2 separate regions of the Homo sapiens genome follow, and region 1 is linked to region 2. Evidence: fine-mapped expression QTL. A gene starts in region 2. The other region holds a variant in brackets. All regions are shown on one strand. Distances are between the middles of the regions.

Region 1 (5,376 bases), 69 kb after region 2:
TGGACAGTTGGAAGTTTGCTTAGGGAAACTTTAAGCAAGGAGACTTTAGAAACCCCCAGGATGACTCATAGCAAAACAGATATTTTTCTTCTACTTTTAGAATTTTAAAGAGCATTTTACAAAAGCAAAACTCAAAGTGTAGACATGTCATTGGCAGTGTGATAAGAGTATTTTCACTATTCTCTACCCTAAACACTACTGCCAGATTTTTAAAATCTTCTTAAAAAAAAAAACAAAAAAAACAAATTCCCTTTCGTCCTGTGACCCCAGTGATGAGCCCCCCTGGACTCACCCTTAATCTGGAAGAAAAATCAGGCCCTTCGGCTTGCTTGGCCTTTGAGACCATTAGCAGCCCAACCTCAACTTACCTTTTTAGTTTTATCTTTTATATCTACCCTGATGAGCTCCCAAGTGTATTTCTTCCCTTTTCTGAGCTTTTACCACAGATGACCACCTCCTCTCTAACTCTCATCCACTTCAACTGACTCCATCCAGGCTGTCTTTTCCCAGGAAACCTCTGCTGGCCCTCCCTCCCCACCTCCTGTAGCCCAGGTCTGCAGCACTTCCCATCTGCATGGCTCACCCACCCTTTCTCCTGTGCTTCAGCTGAGGTGGTGTGGAGAGCTGGTTTCTCTGAACTCATGCTTTTGAAGGTAGAAACACTATCGTCTTCATTCTCCTTTACAGAGGGCATAGATTCTGGAAGAAGAGGTTCCTGGTGCCAGAGCAGGAGCCCTTGCCCTTTGAGCAGTCCAAGGTGGTGGTGTCTCAGGGCAAAGGGGAGATACTTATGTTCAGAGAGGCATGGAGCTGGAGGGGAAATATTTGCTCAGAAAAGAAATCTTGCTCCAGGGCCTGTGTGGGATGGGATAGTATATACTATTAATATTACAGTTAAGAACATGGAGTCTGGAGTGAGGCCTGAATTAGAATCCTGGCATTGCCACGTTTACCAGCTGTGTGATCCAAGGTAAATTATCTCAAAAGTCTGGATTTCTTTAACTATAAAATAAGGGAGATAATAGTACCTACCACATACAGGCTTTATGAGGACTCAGTAAGATAGTACGATTAGTGCAGTATCATGCATGTAGGAAATACTCAATAACATGCTTGCTATTAACTGCTATTGGTGATTATCAGGAAGGGAGAAGTTGAAAGAGGAACAGATGGAACCAGGTTCTCTCCTAGAATTGCCTCTCAGGCCATTCAGTGCTTCAGCTTTATGACCCTTCCCATACTCCAGATCAAGGTCTCAAACCAAGCATATTGAAGACCTAGAAAAGGCAGCTGCAACCTGGGCCACCATAGGTGACCAGAGGCCTCATTGGCTGCTGGATCTGGCCAGCTTGGCTGTGGTTGCTGAGTGAAGGCTGATCAGGGCTGATGCTCTAGTTCATTCTCCTAACAGACAAAGCCTAGGGATAAGGTAGTCTCTTGCCACAAGTATCCAGAGGGACTCAGTCACAAACAGCTCACACCTGTTCTACATTGAGTCCAGTGGATCCAACCCACACAACCATGAACACACCTCTAAAAATAGCTCCGAGCAGGGTCTGTGGGACCCACCCACTGCTCTTTCGGCAAGAGTTCATTTTCCCAGGAACAGAAATCCCAGACTGTCAGCATCTTCACACTGCTTCCTGGCTTCCAGCACTCTCAGTGCTTAAGCAAATTCCAACTGTAGGTCACAAAGAAAATGGAATCACTACAGGTCCCCCATGCAGTTGGCTCAGGTTCTGCAGTAAAAAGTGGAATTAACTCAAGCTGCTAATGTGAGACTTTATTCTGTGTCATCTGGTGCTCAAATGGTTGATCTAGTAGCCTGGCCACTTGGGCCAGAAGAGCTGCAAAGGCAGACACGGAGGTCTCCTCACTCCAGACACTGACTTGCCTTGCATTCATGTTGGACTGCAGTGAAAGTTACAGAAATAGGCAGCAGCTTCTGTGAAGGCTGTTCCTACTAGTTAAGAGCATGGATCCTGGATCTAGATTCCTTGGGCTCATATCTCACCTCTGTGTAGACTTGGGCAATTTATTTAACCTTCCTAGAATTCAATTTCCTTGATTATATATATGGATAAACAATTCTATAGATAGATAGATAGATAGATTTTTTTTTTTTTGAGACAGAGTCTAGGTCTGTCACCCAGGCTGGAGTGCAGTGGCACAATCTTGGCTCACTTCAACCTCCTTCTCCTAGCTTCAAGCGATTCTCCTGCCTCAGCCTCCCGAGTAGCTGGGATTACAGGCATACACCGCCATGCCCAGCTAATTTTTTGTATTTTTAGTAGAGATGGGGTTTTGCCATGTTAGCCAGTCTGGTCTCGAACTCCTGATCTCAGATGATGCGCCCGCCTCAGCCTCCCAAAGTGCTGGGATTACAGGCGTGAGCCACCGTGCCCAGCCAATTCAATGTATGTTAAGTGCTTAGGAAGCACTTTATAAGTGTTAGAGTTATGGGGAGGATGACATCGATCAGAACTGACAACCTCTGGTTACTCGGGAGCCAGGTACCCAACCTTGATTCTGAAAAGAGAGGTTTTTCAATCCTATGGGAAAGGCAACAGTGGATATGGTCACCCAAGGGCACTAGCTTCCTCAATTTCCTATGATACCTCCTATTTCTGGCCAACACACCCGAGATGCCTGTACATTATGTTTCCTGGTATAATTTAGAAGCTAGAATTCTGCCATCTCTGACATCCAGCACCTGTAACTCCTGCCAGCTCCTTGAAGAGAGGCCTCTTTTACCCAGTGGGATTTAACAAACTGGCATCACACCAGGGTCATTTGCTGAACAACTTGTGGGCACTACAGAGCAGCACAGCCATTGTTGGTTTTGTGGACTGGCAGCAGCACTTAGGGATCCTTTGACTCATCCCTGCTTTTCTCTGTCCCTTCCTCCATAGCAGCTCTTTCACACTTTTCCATTAGTCTTCAACCTTATACTCCCCTTTCAACTGATGTCACTACCAATGTCATAGGAAAAAAAAAAAAAAACCAGCCAAACTGAGATGAGTCTCTTCACCCTCCCTCCCTTTCACCGCAAAATGTAACTGT[A/G]TTTCAGCATCCTGTTTCATGGGCCAGGAGTCCCTTCTCTCAGCCAAGGCTATCCCAGTATCCTGTCCTTGACCCAATCCTGTTCCAGCTCCTCTTGTTGCTCTGATTGTTTCTTCTCTCAGCTCCTCCCTGCCTATCTGTCCCTTGCCCTTGGTGGAAAATGCTTCTCCTCAATTCTCAGGGAAAAAACAAATCAAAACTATCTTTGACCCTGTGCTTGTCTCTTCATGCTGCCTTATAACTTACCTTCCTTTCACTGTTAAGATTCTTGGTGAGTTGTTAGCCTGCTCGTTCATCTCTACTCCCTCCTGGTCACTCCTGAAGCCAGTGAGCACTAACTTTGTTCCTATAGTCATCTTTTAAATTCCTTCTGTAATGTTATTTTTGCTGCCTCTAGTTCCCAGGCAATCTTCCCCATACATTTTCCTTTGTATTCATTTCCATTTGGAAATCTTGTAGGATTAATGGCATTCTTGTGACCCGAGGAGCAGCTCCTTACTTTGGCTCTTGCCTAATTCTGTGTTCTCAAACTTTGGATCTTTCATGCCGAAGAGACACCAGGCTCTAAAGCCTCCAGGGGAGCTAAGACAGTCACAGCGCCCACTCCACCCTAACTGTAGCACCCAGTCCTGCTGCACTGTCTCTGAAGGTGTTTTCAGTAATAATGACTCAGTGCATCTATTGGAGTTGGCAAGGTGAGGACAGTCTTCAAAGAGTCTTCTCTTTTTACTCTCCTCCTGGCTTTCACATCCTCTCATTACAGGATACCAGCACACATACAAATGCTATTTCTGCAGCCCAGTGCTGTAAGCTTTTTATGTGTCCAGCTACCAGATAAAGAGAATTTAGCAGTGACCAAGCTCAGCCAAGGTTATAATTTTGGGGAAAAAAAAAATCTTGGTAAATGTGTTTCTCTACAAATCTAGCTCCCCAGGAAGATCAGTTAGGAGCTTCATCCCAGCCCCTTGGTTGGAGAGCTGATGGCCAGTTTATCTTCAGGGTGTCCTGTGTTTGCTATGTTAGTTCTGGAAGACCAGAATATCTGAAGGGTAGTGATTGTCATAGCTTCATGGGTAGCATGTCTGTATTGGGAAGGCTATTTCCAAAGCTGCTGTTCTCACATTCTCCTAGGGGTATTCCTTTAAAGCCTTCAGACTCAATCATTCAAATGGTGCCTCCACTGTAAAGCCTCTTCTCTCTTTTGAAGGTGAAATGTTTTTGTCTCTCCTCTATGCCCCTGCCATTCATGTGCATACAACTCTTTATGATAGTACTTATTACATCCTGCTGCAAAGGTTGATTTCTTTTTTCCTTCTGTCCTTATTCCCTGTAATACTACAGAGCTTTTTAAGGGCAGGGACTAAATCATTGTTTAGCACAGAAAGTGGCACCTAGTGGGTGCTCAGGATTATTCAAGTCATTTCATAAATACATTCATGACGTGTGATGATGTGAACATTGGTCAACCAAGAAGCTATTTATTTGCTGTTTATGAACTCTGCTTTGTTCTTCCTTAAAAGAGGACATTTAGATCATTGGATGATAGCCTCATCAGCAATACTTAACCTCCCCTTATATATAATTGAGGGGAGGAGGGAATAAGGGTCAAGGTCAGGATAGGCTTTCTCTTGTTGGACTCCTGGTAGCCGAGGATCTGACTGCACTCTATTCACATTGCATTTGGAAGAAATTTCTTTAACACTGTGACAAAGATGGTAGATTGGCTTGACCGTTCTTCACCTAGAAAAAGCAGAACTGGTCCTGGGAATACTCAGGTTTATAATAAATGCCAGAAAGCCCTAAAACTCCTTAATAAAAAAATCTAGGGGAAGTTTTCTTTTTTATAAGAACCTGCCTACACTCATACTACTGGGTTCCCTTGGTGTTGGGTAACCAGAGTCCTGTAACAGGAATTGACTGTAGCTTTTGTGATCCAATCATTTTTGTTTATTTATTTATTTTGGTCCCCTTACTTTTAAGGTTTATGTCTTCTAAGTTTCTAAAAGGGGTTGCATGTGAGTGGTGCTTCTGAGCTTAAGATATAGCCTTAGTAACTTTGATATCTCCCCTGATGCCCTGTGCCTGGCAGCTATGGTTCACTTGTAACTAGTTTTCTGGATTTTGATAAGATCCTCTTGACTAGGCAGCCTGGAAACACTACACATTTTCTTTTGTTTTCTTATTCAGCTAAAAATACATGTCATCTAAATGGCTAAATAAGGAAGAACCATTTTAAGGCTTATCCAGGACAAGGCTTACCCAACGTGCTGTGTTCAAAATCTCAGCGTATTTACAGGCAAAGAGCCATCATAT
Region 2 (5,376 bases):
GTTTTCATGTCTGCACAAGACCTTTCAATAGGCCTTTCAAATGATAATTCCTCCAGAAAACCAGTCTAAGGGTGAGGACCCCAACTCTAGCCTCCTCTTGTCTTGCTGTCCTCTGTTTCTCTCTTTCTGCTTTAAATTCAATAAAAGTGACACTGAGCAAATAACCTCATCAGGTTATATTTGCCCACATACCCTAAGCACAAAAGCTTTCTGGGAGTGCTGCTTGTGTTAGGTTTACTGTGAATGATTCCCAACACACTGAGGCCCTGGTAAATATTCTGGAATCTGGACAGAAGCCATACAGCAGGCAAGCGACTCTGCCACAGCAGGCATGCCCTGTGGCACCGAGGGCAGCATGCCTCTTGACAGGGGCTTCCTCAGTGTTTCCCACGTGTTTGTCCAATTCAGCTAAGTTCGAGTCACAAGTGCAGGCTGTGGTGCCAGTCTGTGTCACGTGCTGAAGCCTCTGTCTTTCCAGGTTGGTCACATGAGAAGGTTTGCTTTGTGTGCTTGCAGCTGTTTTCCTGTCTTTGCCAAGCCCAGGCTGGGACCATAGGCAGTGAAGAGAAAATGTTTTTTTCCATAGCATTTGAGTAGATATTTGGCAGAAGGGAATTACTCAACCCATGGATACAGTGTAATTACCCACAGTTCTAACAGAATGGTACAGAGAGGCCAAATCCTTTGTGGAATGAGACAGGTATGAATAAATAAATGTGATATTACCTGCCCTATTACCTACCTATTTCACAGATAGAAGGAATGTGGGCTGCCTCACAGAGGATAGTGGGGTAGATTTATCAATAGGAGTGAGTCCTGCAACCATAGTTCCTTTGGAGGCACAGAGGGGAGGTTGCCTGAAATGTGCTGTCTAGATTCCACCTGGGATATGATTTGATTGACAGCTCTGCAGGGCACATCTGCCCCAAACAACTCACCTTGGTACCTACCTTAAATCCCTGCAGCTCGAATCACTCTTTTAGGTCAAGACATTTTCTCCAGGAAGCCCCTGTTAAGGGACCACTTTGCTTCTTGTGAGCCAGCGCAGGTCAGTATGCAGGCCTGGGAATGGGGTTTCTTTCAGGTGAACGTTTTAGCTCTGGGGTCTTGTTGGATTTAAGTGAAGACTGACATCGACATGGCCTACATCAGTGGTTCTTAAACTTTGTTGCACATAAGAATCACCTGCGGAGTTTTAACAGTCCTCATGCCGTGGCCATATCCCCAAGACCATTAAATCAGAACCTCTGGGGATGGATCGAGATATCAGTATTTTTAAAGTTCCTTCCCGCAAGTTGGTTCCAAAGTGCAAAGAAGCTCCAGAGCCGGTGACTTAGAACATTTAAAAAGGTAACTGTATCAATTTAAGAACAGGCTAGCAGTTTCTGGGGGCGGAGGTAAGGGGAGTGGCTCCGCTAGGGCAATAAAGGGTGGGATTCGGAAACAGCCATGACCTTGTGTGAACTGTGGCAGCCTGCGTCTACAAAAGTCGCTCTGCTGCTATTTTAAGGAAGTGAAAGAGAACTGAAGGGTGTCCTGTTGTAACACAACTCTTGCGGGCCCCAGCCTTCCCCTGCTGGCTGTGCTTTGGTCTGCTGCTGGCCAGGTTCCCGCAGTGACCACACGTCTCATATTTGCCAGGGTGGGTTAGGTTCTGTTCACATGTAAAATTCTCCTGGGCCTACTGGTCATTTCAGACCGCGAGGGTAAATTTGGTTTGAAAAAGTTGTGTCCTGTGGAGTTTGTCGACACTCCAGCCTGTAGAGAACTAAAGGCTAGGGCTGTGGTGACTCCTGCCAGAGCTGGGGACTATGCCGAGTCCCTGGTGTCGCTGCCATCTGAGGCCTACAGGGATTTTAAACAGCTTAACAGCAGCCAGTCCTTGGAGGCCTGGGCAGGGCCACAACATAGCAGTACAACCAAAACGGGTTCAGGCCACACGCTGGAGGTAGGGGCTGGACCAGATCTCCAGCTTCAGTCCTCCCCAGTTCGAGAACCCATTCCTGTGGTCAGACATTGCCAACGCTTTTCTTGGACCTAAGGTCCCAGACCTTGGCGCTGGGCACAGGGAAATGCTTCCTGACCTCGGCTCTTCATAAGACAGAACTTTTGTTTGGTGCCAACCACTAGAGGGACCTCCACCCCAGGTTGCGAGTGCAGCGCGGCGGGACCTGGGATGATTCGGGGGCTTTCCGACCTGCTTAGGGAGGGCGGCTCAGAGACAACCTCAATTTTGCCTGGATTGCACGCGGGCCGAGGAAGTCGGGATGCTCCGAAGGGTTTCTGCTCTGGGAGTGCCTCTAATGTGGGTTTTCTATGCTTTCTCTCTTCGCAATTCTCGACACCGTTTCCTTCTTCCTCGCTTTCATTCCCTGTGACCGGAGAACGGCGCTGAAGGACTGGAGAAGCCCAGGAGACTGGGAGCCGGAGCGCCGGGTACCCACCCGGGCCTCCCCGCAACCGGAGCTGTGCGGAGGAGGAGGCGCGGCGAACGGGGCGGGGCTCCCGGAAGGGGGCGCGGTCCGCCGAGAGAGGCGGGGCTGGGGCCCGGACGCGCGGCCCAGGGGGTGGGGACGAGGCAGGTTCGAAGGGGCGGGGCTGACCAGGCCGGTCCCCCGGGAACAGGAACCCTGGTGGACGGGTCCCAGCAGGCTTCTTCGGTGCCCGAGAGGGAGCGGGTGCCCAAGGGGGTGGTCCCTGTGGCAGGTCCCGGGGTGGGGGCGCGGCGCTCCGGGAAGAGCCTTCCGCAGGTCCCCGCCCCGTCACGTGGGCGCCGGCCCCGGCCGCTGCGGTCGGTCCGCTGGTTGGTCGGGCGCTTGGTCCGGCAGTTGGTCGGTGGGCCAGTGGCCCGTCGCTCGCTTCTGGGCTCTCATGTTTGAAGGTGGGAGGGACACGGGAGCGGCCCGCACACCTGAGCCGCCCGGAGAGGAGCCTCGGCCCCGTACCCAGGTCAGTGGGCTCTCCCCACACCCCGGGCTTGCCGCGCGGTCGGGGTTGGGATCCCCGTCGGGAGCATTACCTAGGGAGTGGAGCGCCCCCAGAGCTACGAACCACGGGGACGTGTGGGTCAGTGTCTCTGTGAGCCCCGGAGCGTGTCCCAGGCTCGAGGACGGGGACCCTTCTCCAACTCCACTGGCCAGAAGCCTGGGAGGAGGGCAGAACTCCTGTGGGTTGGCTGCGAATCTCCACCCAACCCTGCCTGGGATCCGCGGACAGTCCGCACTCCTGCAGGTGCCAGCGTGGCCCTGGAGATGCGCAGGGAGGTGGGGTCCCTGAGTTCTGTGCGGCGCGTCCCAGCCCTGCTCAGCCCGGGGAGCAGCGGCGTGGACTAGGGAGCCTAAGGAGGTTGCGGAAGCTTTAGGTCTGTCAGCCCAGGCAATTCTCTGGTGGACACAGCGTGTGTCTAGATGCAGGGCCTCGGCTAAAGCCAGTTCTGTAGTGTAAGTGCAAAAATACAGCACACTTTTTAAAATCTAAAGCCGCCGCGTCCCAGTAGACTGCAGGATGGGGACGGTCCTATTTAAAAGTGGGCTCCCTCCTCACCTCATCACATCAGATTCCAGACCCGCAGTTTTTCCTCGGATGAAAATAAGATTATGTAACAAGAGAACAGAACTTCCAGCGTTTGGATAGGATTAAGACAGGCATTCTTGCCAGTGTTTAATCTTCTTAAAAAACGAATCTAATTATATTTTTACTTTTAGAGCAGCCAGATATTTGGTATAGATCCGTGTCCCTTTTCTATATTTTGGTCTACTTCCTGTCTTTCTCTTCGTCTCTCTCCTTTCTCAACCCCTCCTTAATTGATTGTAATACAAATCTGAAGTGTTTTCAAATTTGTAGTGTATTATGTGAAGTTAAATGGTCAACTACAGAAAAGTAGTTGGTTTTCGACATAATTCATCTTCAGCATATTCAGTCTTTCATTATTATAGGTGTATGGAAAGCTGTAAGTGTTATCTAATTTAGAAATTATTTCTCTTTGGCTTAAGAGAGGCAACCCATTTGTACTTTGCTTAAATTCATAGCTAAATAAATTTGAAGTGGGAGATGGGGATGATTGATGAGGTTTTCACTGATTGCATTTATCCATGTTTTATTTAACATATTTCAATTATTAGTAATACTATTTTAAGATTTGGTGATGTGACAGTTGTTAGCTTATTGCTACTGGAGAGATAAGCTGCTTACCATGATGCCTTCTTTACTGGGTAGCTAAGGGAGATGCGCTTTGACTTTAAAAGAGTAAGTGGAATGAGATCAATGACATGAAGGCGGTAGGAACAAAGTTATGGGAATTCCTGTCTTTCATCTGAGCAGGGAAATCTGGGATAATTTTAAGAAAGGGTGATGTGATGGACCTCAAAGGATCCCTCCTGGGGTTTTTGAGGCAGAGAAGGGTAGAGTGTGGCCTGGGCTGTGACAACTGTGTGGGCAGGCAGGCATGGACTCACCATGAGAAGTGGCCAGTGGTCCAGCTTGGCTCTTATGTCAAGTGCTAGTCAGGAAAGCTGGTGACAAGGCTGGAAAATAGTCCCAGCTGTCCAGTACAGAAGTCTGGACTTGGTCTGAAGGCACAGCAGGGGACTGACTGATGGTTCTGTGAACTTCTCAAAGTCAAAGACCTTGGTCCTTGACCCTCCCAATTCCTAGCCTGATACAGAGAAAATCCAGTAAATATTTGTGGAGTGCATGGTCTGACAACACTGTAGAGCAGAGCTTCTCAAAGTTGAGAATCCTGTGGGGATCTTGTTCAAATGCAAATTATGATTCCATAGGTCAGGGGTGGGACTTGACATTCTGTGTTTCTAACAGATTCCCAGGAGCTTGCTGATCATTTCCCTATGTGTAGCAAGGATTTAGAGTAGCAGTTTGCAAACCTGGCTATGCCTCATAATCGCCTGGGGAGTTTTGTAAAACGTTCAGATTAAGTAGTCTGGGATGTTTTTACCAAGTTCCCCCAGGTGATTCTGTTGACAAACCCGAAGGCAACTGCTGCAATGGCAAAGTTCTGGGAGTGTGGTGGGAAGCAAACTCCAAGGGAAAAAGACAGTGGGGGCGGCGAGGCCGGATAGGAAACCGGGAGGCTGATCCAGGGTCAAAGGGATGAGGCCTTATTTTGGGCCTGAGAGAGTGATGAGGTGGGGACAGGTAGGGAGACTTCGGAGAGATAGAATCTGTAGGACAGAGGACTAGGGAATGGGACAGTCTCTAGACTGATTAGATGCAATGAGAAGTGAGGAGGGAGAAACAATGCTGGGAAGATTCAGCTTTGGGCCTGAGGAATGGTATGGCCTTTAGACTGTAATGTTTAAGGTAAAGTTTATGAAAGGTTCTTGTATTGGTTCGAACCCCGAGAGCCTGCCAACAGACAAC

The links. PIP is the estimated chance that this variant, and not a neighbour inherited with it, causes the effect.
Region 1: its variant is fine-mapped to the expression of PPFIBP2 in ovary (GTEx, PIP 0.93).

The regions. Positions count from the first base shown.
Region 1 is chr11:7,579,729-7,585,104 of GRCh38, forward strand. All of the region lies in intron 3 of PPFIBP2 (PPFIB scaffold protein 2), which reads left to right. It overlaps LOC105376535 (a long non-coding RNA gene), which reads right to left. Exons shown (of 4, transcript XR_007062579.1): 3 at 1,532-1,681. Among named protein-coding and RNA genes, the nearest start is that of PPFIBP2, 68 kb to the left of the region's middle. The variant A/G (reference allele first, on the strand shown) is at 3,064.
Region 2 is chr11:7,511,173-7,516,548 of GRCh38, forward strand. PPFIBP2 (PPFIB scaffold protein 2) reads left to right here and starts at 2,827. Exons shown (of 24, transcript NM_003621.5): 1 at 2,827-2,949. It overlaps LOC124902806 (leucine-rich repeat extensin-like protein 5), which reads right to left. Exons shown (of 4, transcript XM_047428005.1): 2 at 2,946-3,433; 3 at 951-2,868. The coding sequence ends at 2,038. OLFML1 (olfactomedin like 1) reads left to right here. Exons shown (of 3, transcript NM_198474.4): 3 at 1-205. RefSeq lists an enhancer at 1,603-1,722 and a silencer at 2,393-2,922.